Homo sapiens: one gene and its partner. The protein of the gene in region 1 interacts with the protein of each later gene in a pairwise test. Each region holds a gene or a part of one and is shown in the gene's direction. Other genes may lie near its edges. The genes, in order: SLC12A5 and F2RL1.

Region 1 (3,807 bases):
TACCTGGCATCTAGTAGGTAGAGGCCACGATGCTGCTAAACATCCTACAATGCTATAGGACAGTCCTCCACAGCAAAGAATTATCTGGCCGGGAGTGTCACTAGTGCCACAGTGGAGAGACCTTGGAATGGAGAGAAGGGGCATATTTAAGAAATATTAAGGAGGGGTTAAAGGACAGAAGTTGGAGGTGGTATTGAAGTTGGGGAAGGGGAGAGGGAGCAGTGTAGGGCAGGGTGTCAGAATTGATGATGGTGCCATTTACTGAAATATGGGATGCAGGAAAGGAGCTGGTTTGGGGTGGGTGGAGGGTGAGATCAATTTGGGACACATCGACTCAATCTGAGATGGGTCTTTATTTGCTCATTTACTCCACTAGATTGGACTGTTTGATGGTAGTGACTGGGTCTGATTAGTCTGTGAAAGGTCTGTACATAGCCTGGCCCAAATCAGGAGCTTAGGAAATGTCAGTGGAAATGAAATAGAGATAAGGCCGGGGAGAGTGAGATGGGGTTGATCTTGACCCTGACTTTTTGCCCCCTCCCACCTCCTGGTCCCAGAGCTCTGGTCCCCTTATGGCTGGCCTCCCCCTGAGCATTCTGTCTCCCCACAGAGAACCTCTGGAGCTCCTACCTGACCAAGGGCGTGATTGTGGAGAGGAGTGGGATGACCTCGGTGGGCCTGGCCGATGGCACTCCTATCGACATGGACCACCCTTATGTCTTCAGTGATATGACCTCCTACTTCACCCTGCTGGTTGGCATCTACTTCCCCTCAGTCACAGGTGAAGGGGAGCTCAGAGAGGGAAGACTCTGCCTGTGAGTGGATGGGGAAGAGAGAGTCGATGATGATGTTGGGAATTTCTTAGTCCAAAAACCCCATCATGAAAGCAACCGTAACATTTCACTTCCCATTGGAGAGATGAGGGAATTAAGGCCAGGAGAAGCTAAGTAACATGTCCAAGGTCTCACACAAGCCAGTATGTTAGGACTAGATCCCAGACTCACTGACCCTGAGGGTGGTGCCCTTTTTTCTCATCTGTCTGGTCTCCTGTGGCCCTGGCTTGAGTCCTAGCTGCACTTCTGTTTTGCAGGGATCATGGCTGGTTCTAACCGCTCTGGGGACCTGAGGGATGCCCAGAAGTCAATCCCCACTGGCACCATCCTGGCCATCGCCACCACCTCTGCTGTCTGTATCCTGCACAGCTGTGCTGGGACCACCCTCGGGGGAGGGCAAGAGGGAGGGCAGCTGAACTTGCTGCCTTACCTGCTGGTGCAGGAAGGGTGGGGAGGGGGAGGACTGAACCGTGGGGATTCTCCTTTATCCTCTGCTGCAGACATCAGCTCCGTTGTTCTGTTTGGGGCCTGCATTGAGGGGGTCGTCCTGCGGGACAAGTAAGATAATTGGGGTTGATCCTATTCTGGGGGAGGGGTGGGTATAGAAGGCTGAGTTCTGGGAAACAGACCCATCAGGAGGTGCTGGGACCTGTGTGAGGGGCCTGTGGGAGGGAGGCCACGGGGATTGCTTGCAAAGTCATCTTCTTATATTTCATCTTCCTTCTGTCACTCCAGTTTGAGAAGCTTGGATGGTGTCTCATTTCCTTTAGGATAATGATACTTTCCTTTTCTTTAAAATGGATTAATTCAATAGTGTGTCTAACATTTACTGAATGTCCATGTGTTGGTCACACAGACAGGAGTGGTATTTATCTGTGTTCCCTCCGAGATTCTGGAGGCAGCACAGATAAATAACACATGGTTTTTGTACTGAAGGAGCTCTTCTTGGTGGGTCTATACTGGCCAACAGACTTTAAGTGCAGTCGGTAGGGGTGGCCATACAGGAAAGCCCAGGGGCTTCAGTCCAGTCCTTAGGGATCTTCCCAGGGAAGTCTTCTCAGAGGAGGGGAGGCTAGAAGTGTCTTATACACTTTATCTCACTTATCCTTCCTGCTTTTAAGGCTGAGCAGAGATTAGGCAGCTTGGAGGAAGGGCATTCCAGGCAATGGGGAGCCAGGGTGGAGGGGAGAAATGTGTGCGCATGCCTGCAGCTGTGAGTGCTCACTGTCCTGGAGCACTCATGTCTGAAGGGCATGAGCACACACAACTGGCCGGGTGGTGTAGGAGGTCCTCTCAGAATCACTTTCCACTGGTACCACCAGGCTTCTGTAAGGGAATGCAGTGGGGGACGTGGGGCTGGGACCTATGCTGGAGACAGGCCTAGAGGCCTGGTTTTCAGTATCAGGAAATTAGAGAATTATTTTATCAAGGAAAAAACAATGGAACATTTGGGGCTCTGCCTCCCCTGTCACCCTTACAGAACTTAGTCCTGTGGCAGGCACACAGTTGGTTCTGTAGTTGGTATGGAGACCTGCCCTGGAAATCCAGGCAGCACTGCTCACCTGGCATCTCCTGTCCACATCATTCCAGGTTTGGCGAAGCTGTGAATGGCAACCTCGTGGTGGGCACTCTGGCCTGGCCATCTCCATGGGTAATTGTCATCGGATCCTTCTTCTCCACCTGTGGGGCTGGGCTGCAGAGCCTCACGGGGGCCCCACGCCTGCTGCAGGCCATCTCGAGGGATGGCATTGTGCCCTTCCTGCAGGTCAGTGTGGGAGAAGAACAGCCCACCCTCAGTAGACCAGCCAGGCCCCTGCCCAGAGAGACCACACAGTGACCCAGGGCCATAACCAGCCTTAGACTACCTCCTGGGCCACTTCTGCTCTGTACTGCACTGGCCAGGCCTATCTGGCAGGGTCTGAGGCACAGGGACAGGGTGGTGTGGGGTGTCAGGAGTTGGGCAGGGCATTGGGTGGTGCCCTGTCTGTGGCTTCTCCTTCACCCAGATGGAAGGATAAGTGTGTCTTACTTGGGATTTGGCCCATGGTCAGTGCATCCCTTGGAGCACTGTCTGCTCTTGGGGAAAAAATAAATGGCCCTGTTTTGGCACTGTGGTTGGTCGGAGACCTGGGGAGGCAGTCAAAGGGCAAGAAAAGGGTAGCTTTTACCATGGTGCTAAAAAAAAAAGACGGATGGAGCACAGGGTCGTGGTGGCTTGCTGGCTTCCTGACAGCTCCTCTCCCATCTGGTCCTCTGCAGCTGCTTTCCCCCTCTAGGGATCATTTGAACTTCATGGCACTGGGGTGCCGATCTCAGGGTGGGCAAGATGCAGCGAAAGCCTGTTATCCATTTGCATTCTCCTGGAGGAAGAGAAATGCATCCTCTCCCTTCCTCCTCTTTGGTGATAGGATTCCTGCCTCTACTCCACTGGTTCCCGAGGCTAGGGGAGAGGGCTGAGAAATCCTTGAGGTCTCAGTCCCATGATGATTGCTCTTTCCCCAGGTCTTTGGCCATGGCAAGGCCAATGGAGAGCCGACCTGGGCCCTGCTCCTGACTGCCTGCATCTGCGAGATTGGCATCCTCATTGCATCCCTCGACGAGGTGGCCCCCATCCTCTCTATGTGCGTGCCTGACTTCTTGCCCTCCCCCCTGGTTCAGGGTGTTTCTCTATCTGAATCCTGCAGCCGTTACCTGTGACAACCCACCCAGACACTTTAGCAACCCCAGGAAGTTCCCCATTGGTCATAGAAGCCCATCGTTTGTTATAGAGAGATTCATCCACACGTGTTATTAGGGTGTGTTGTGAGGGTATTTGGCTTGAAACCCCTTCCTAAGCACCACAGCATGATCTGGCCACCTCCTGACTTCCTGTCCCCTTTCCCCCTTTCTCTGCCCATGCTGTTGTTTCTGTTTCTGCCTCCCTTTGCATCTCTGTCTCCCCTGGGGCCTTCCTGTGTTCCAGGTTCTTCCTGAT
Region 2 (4,450 bases), on another chromosome or scaffold:
GGTGGCTCATTCCTGTAATCCCAGCACTTTGGGAGGCTGAGTGGGGAGGATCACATGAAGCCAGGAGTTCCAGACCAGACTGGACAAGATAGGGAGACCCCACTTCTATTTTCTAATAGAAATTAAAATAAAAAATAAAGAAAATTTCTTTATACATTGAGCTGAAATTAAACCCCACTGTGGCTTCCACCAATTTTTGCTCTCTGGAGCAACTCAAAACACATCTAAATCCTCTTCTACAAGCGAATCCTTTAAATATTTGAAAATACCTATGTCTCTCTTCTGTGCTCTTCTGGTACCAATAGTTTAAATGGGTAACAGTAGACTTTGTTTTATTCAATCTTTTAAAAAGCAAATAAAAAGTAAGACATGCTGGGTGCGGTGGCTCACGCCTGTAATCGCAGCACTTTGGGAGGCGGAGGTGGGCTGATCACGAGGTCAGGAGTTCGAGACTAGCCAGACCAACATGGTGAAACCCCGCCTCTACTAAAAATACAAAAATTAGCCAGATGTGGTGCACGCCTGTAACTCCAGCTACTCGGGAGGCTGCGGCCAGAGAATTGCTTGAACCCAGGAGACAAAGTTTGCAGTGAGCCGAGATCACGCCACTGCACTCCAGCCTGGGAGACAGAGCGAGACTCCGTCTCAAAAACAAAAAGTAAGACATTACCAATATGATGCCAACCCTCATGCACTCATCCCCAACCCCACACTTCTCTTCTCCCACCCCTTCTATCTGCTTTTGTATTTATTTAGCCTATGGGATCCCAATGCAGAGGAGCCCTGGTGGACGCATTTATAGTGCAGCGATGAATAGAAGACAGTGATAGTCTTATACTGGAGTTGAAATGTGATAAACATTTATACACTGTGTTTATAAGTCGTGTAACTCTGGCCAATTTATCTGGTCTTTCTAAGCTCACTTTCCTCGTCTGTAAAATGGGAAGAATAATCATACTTATTGCGCTGGTTGTTATGGGGATTAAGCAAGATAATTCTCTAAAGCTTTGGCACTTGGCGCTGAAAGTAGCCATTCCATGTCTTCTTTCCCGCCCCGCCTCTTGTGCTCCCCACCGCTTTCGTGATGTCCGCAGTTGCCCACCTGCCTCTACAATAAAAAACGCATCCCTCCTCCTGCAGGGTCCACCGCACCGGGAAGCCCTGTCTGTATCAGTTACCAACCACAATTGCAGTGAGTACGAATCGTGGCTTTCCCACAGTCAGGAAAGGCAAGGGAGACCGACGACCCGCTTCTCTAGGAGTAAGTAAAGATTAAAGGTAGTTCGCGGTATAGCCTAGGCAGGGATTAACCCGTGGTCCCAGCGCTCCTGCTATTTGCATTCCAAAGCAGACACCTCATGCGCTCAACCCCGCCCGCAGGCGGCTCCCGCAGTCTAAGGGACCTGGCGCGAGTCCGGGAAGCGGAGGGCGCAGCTGCGCAGGGAAGGGGGCCGGGGGCGGGACCAGGGCGCGCGTTCCGGTCCCGGGGCGTGGCCTCCCGCAGGTGAGTACGCTGCTCCTTCGGTTTCCCTGAAACCTAACCCGCCCTGGGGAGGCGCGCAGCAGAGGCTCCGATTCGGGGCAGGTGAGAGGCTGACTTTCTCTCGGTGCGTCCAGTGGAGCTCTGAGTTTCGAATCGGCGGCGGCGGATTCCCCGCGCGCCCGGCGTCGGGGCTTCCAGGAGGATGCGGAGCCCCAGCGCGGCGTGGCTGCTGGGGGCCGCCATCCTGCTAGCAGCCTCTCTCTCCTGCAGTGGCACCATCCAAGGTGAGAAACCTGGCCAAGGAGGGCTCTTATCTCTGAGGAGCTGGGGTCCTGGGCACGCTGGGCAGACGGTGGGATCCGGGCAGGTGTGCGAAGGCTGTTCTGCTGCCGGCACCCATCTCTACGAATCCCTTAGCCTCCCCTTGGTGGCTTTGATGTGAGGTCTCTGCGCCAAGGAGGCACCCAGGTGGGACATGCGGGAGCAGCTGAAGTCAGCGGAGCCGGGCAGAGGCAGAGATTTCCCCAAAGACCCCACTTCCCGTAGAGGCTGTCATGCTGGGCACCTCCAGGCCCCAGCGTGGGTTCGGGGAAAGGGAGGGAAGGAAGGAGTAGCTGTGTCTAAAGGGTACGCAGAGGACCTAGTCCCCTCCCCGGGCTTGGTTGCTTTGTAAACACTAAGTCATTAAGAGCTTTTTGCCAACTCCGGAGACTTCCTCCGCTGGCCCCGCGGGGCCGGTGGGGTTAGCGAGCTGATTGCGCAGGGCAGGGCGGAGTGGGTGGGAACCCGCGGCCCGGGAGCCTTCTAGGTTGTTTTTTGCGTCCCTCTCCAACTGCTGGAAGCCTTTCTTCGGGTTCTGGCCCCTGCGTTCGAGACCCACCCGGGTCCCGCTGCTCCTGGCACCCACAGTGGAAGGCCCGGGGTATGAAAGTCAGGGCCGGTCCCTGATGGGTTCTGGTGGTAATGAGCGCTCAGGCCCGTTGGGCGCCACGAGGATTTACGAGCGGAACTTTTTGGACCCTGCCTTATATTTGACCAGTTGACCCTCTGGGCCTGGGGTTCCGGGACTTTCCTAGTGTGCCACCCGGAGCGGCCACTGGCTGCCACCCAGGTCTGCAGGCCAGAGGCTGGCTGGCCTGGGAACAGAGCAGCACTTGCGCCCGGCCGTCGCGTTCCTTGGATGTGCTGCTCCGGGTGTGCTCGAACTTGTATTGCTGGGAGTGTGTTCTTCCGGGCCCAGCAGGCCTCGCTGTGGCCGTGGGGGATGTTTGACCTGCGATCGCGCCACTGTGATCCTAACCGAGGCCCCTCTGTTTGGGGCAGCCTGGGTAGCAAAGGGAGCTTTTAATTTCCCTCAGAAATGCGCATTTCTCACTTTTATCCTCCTCTTCATAAAGACGAAGTAAAAGAGCAAGTCACAGTGGGTTGGAATTAGATGGAAGAATGTGATTCTTTTCCCTCTGCAGTTAGGGAAAAGGGTGTTAATGGTGTAAGCTTGAAAACTGTGCACCGCTGGTATATTTTTTTTTCTTAATCAGCATCAGAATAAAGGCATTTAGTTCCAGGAAGTATTGAAAACTGTAATGGACACCTCTCCTCTATGTCCTTTAAAGTTGGAAACTTAAAATTCAGGAGCAAAGGTTAGTATGTGCAAACTTTAAAAAAATACATGTTGGTATAGCTGATTCAACATCTTTATGATTCAGAGATCCCTGTAGGAAGCATGCCCCGATTATTTGTCTTGTTCTTGTTTACTACTCTTGGGGGATTGGGAGATCCCTGGATTATAAGGCGAACTTGATTTAACAATAAGGAAAAATCAGGTTACTTGTTAACTATAGCCACTTAATATTGCACCTTGTTCCTCATCCTCCCCCCACCATACTTTTATTCCCTTGCAAAGTAACTTTCCCAAAGGGTTAGTGAAGTAACACTGACAATTGATTTAGGCAGATGGAGCTTTCCTCCCACCTTAAAACTAAATTGATTTTAATAAGAAATACAGTGTTAGCAAAGCTTTTCTGCCCTCAGGGTGGGTCTTTGCTCACTCGCTTTTTAGCCGGTCCTTCTGCGTGCCCCTCAGGTGGCTGCAGGGCCGATTTGGGGTTTGATTTTCTTCCCAAAGCCTCACTCCAAAAGACTGCCTCATAGAAACGAACTCAGCCGAGATCACAACCTTCTCAGGGTACAGGTGAAGGACACTGAATTGAGGAGGCAAGGCAAGGAAAACACTTGGAAATCAGGGCTTCTCTTTCCCTTTACAATAGTAATTGATAATTATTTGGGTAAACATGCTTAATATGTGTCCTCACTGCATCGTTAACTCCTGGAGGCAGGGGGCCCTACCATCCTTTCCATCACGTCTAGCATAGTCTCATCACCTACGGGACCTCAGTAAATAGCAAATGAATGAAGTGAGGAGTCTTGCCCAGAGTACCCTGGCTGGTCCATGTGGTGTTCATTTCAGTCAGCTTCTCTCTGCCACTTACTTATTTTTTTCCACCATGTTACAGGCCTAGGTCATTCCATTTATCTTTTGGAGACTGGAACTTCTGTTTTCTTTATAATTGGTTTGGTGGTTTTTTTTTGTTTTTTTGGTTTTTTGGGTTTTTTTTTTTTTTGACTCTCATTCGGTTGCCCAGGCTTGAGTGCAGTGGTGCAATTTTGGCTCATTGCAACCTCCACCTCTCCCGGGCTCAAGGAAGTCTCCTGCTGCAGCCTCCCGAGTAGCTGGGACGACAGGCACGCACCACCACCCCCAGCTAATTTTTGTATTTTTAGTAGAGACAGGGTTTCACCATATTGGTCAGGCTGATCTCAAACTCCTGACCTCAGGTGATCCACCCACCTTCAGCCTCCCAAAGTGCTGGGATTACAGGCATGAGCTACTGCGCCCTACCTATAATTGTTTTTTAAATTATAAAAACAATATGTGATCACTCGAGGGAAAAATGAGCCAAAACAAAA

What was found.
Region 2: the proteins of SLC12A5 (region 1) and F2RL1 interact in a two-hybrid assay, tested with the Homo sapiens proteins (one large-scale study listed by BioGRID and IntAct).

The regions. Positions count from the first base shown.
Region 1 is NC_000020.11:46,042,543-46,046,349, forward strand, and holds part of SLC12A5 (solute carrier family 12 member 5), read left to right. Parts: intron 1-610; coding exon 611-781; intron 782-1,090; coding exon 1,091-1,189; intron 1,190-1,333; coding exon 1,334-1,391; intron 1,392-2,423; coding exon 2,424-2,598; intron 2,599-3,335; coding exon 3,336-3,454; intron 3,455-3,795; coding exon 3,796-3,807. UniProt on the Homo sapiens protein: Mediates electroneutral potassium-chloride cotransport in mature neurons and is required for neuronal Cl(-) homeostasis.
Region 2 is NC_000005.10:76,817,498-76,821,947, forward strand, and holds the start of F2RL1 (proteinase-activated receptor 2 preproprotein), read left to right. Parts: upstream 1-1,532; 5' UTR 1,533-1,685; coding exon 1,686-1,767; intron 1,768-4,450. UniProt on the Homo sapiens protein: Receptor for trypsin and trypsin-like enzymes coupled to G proteins.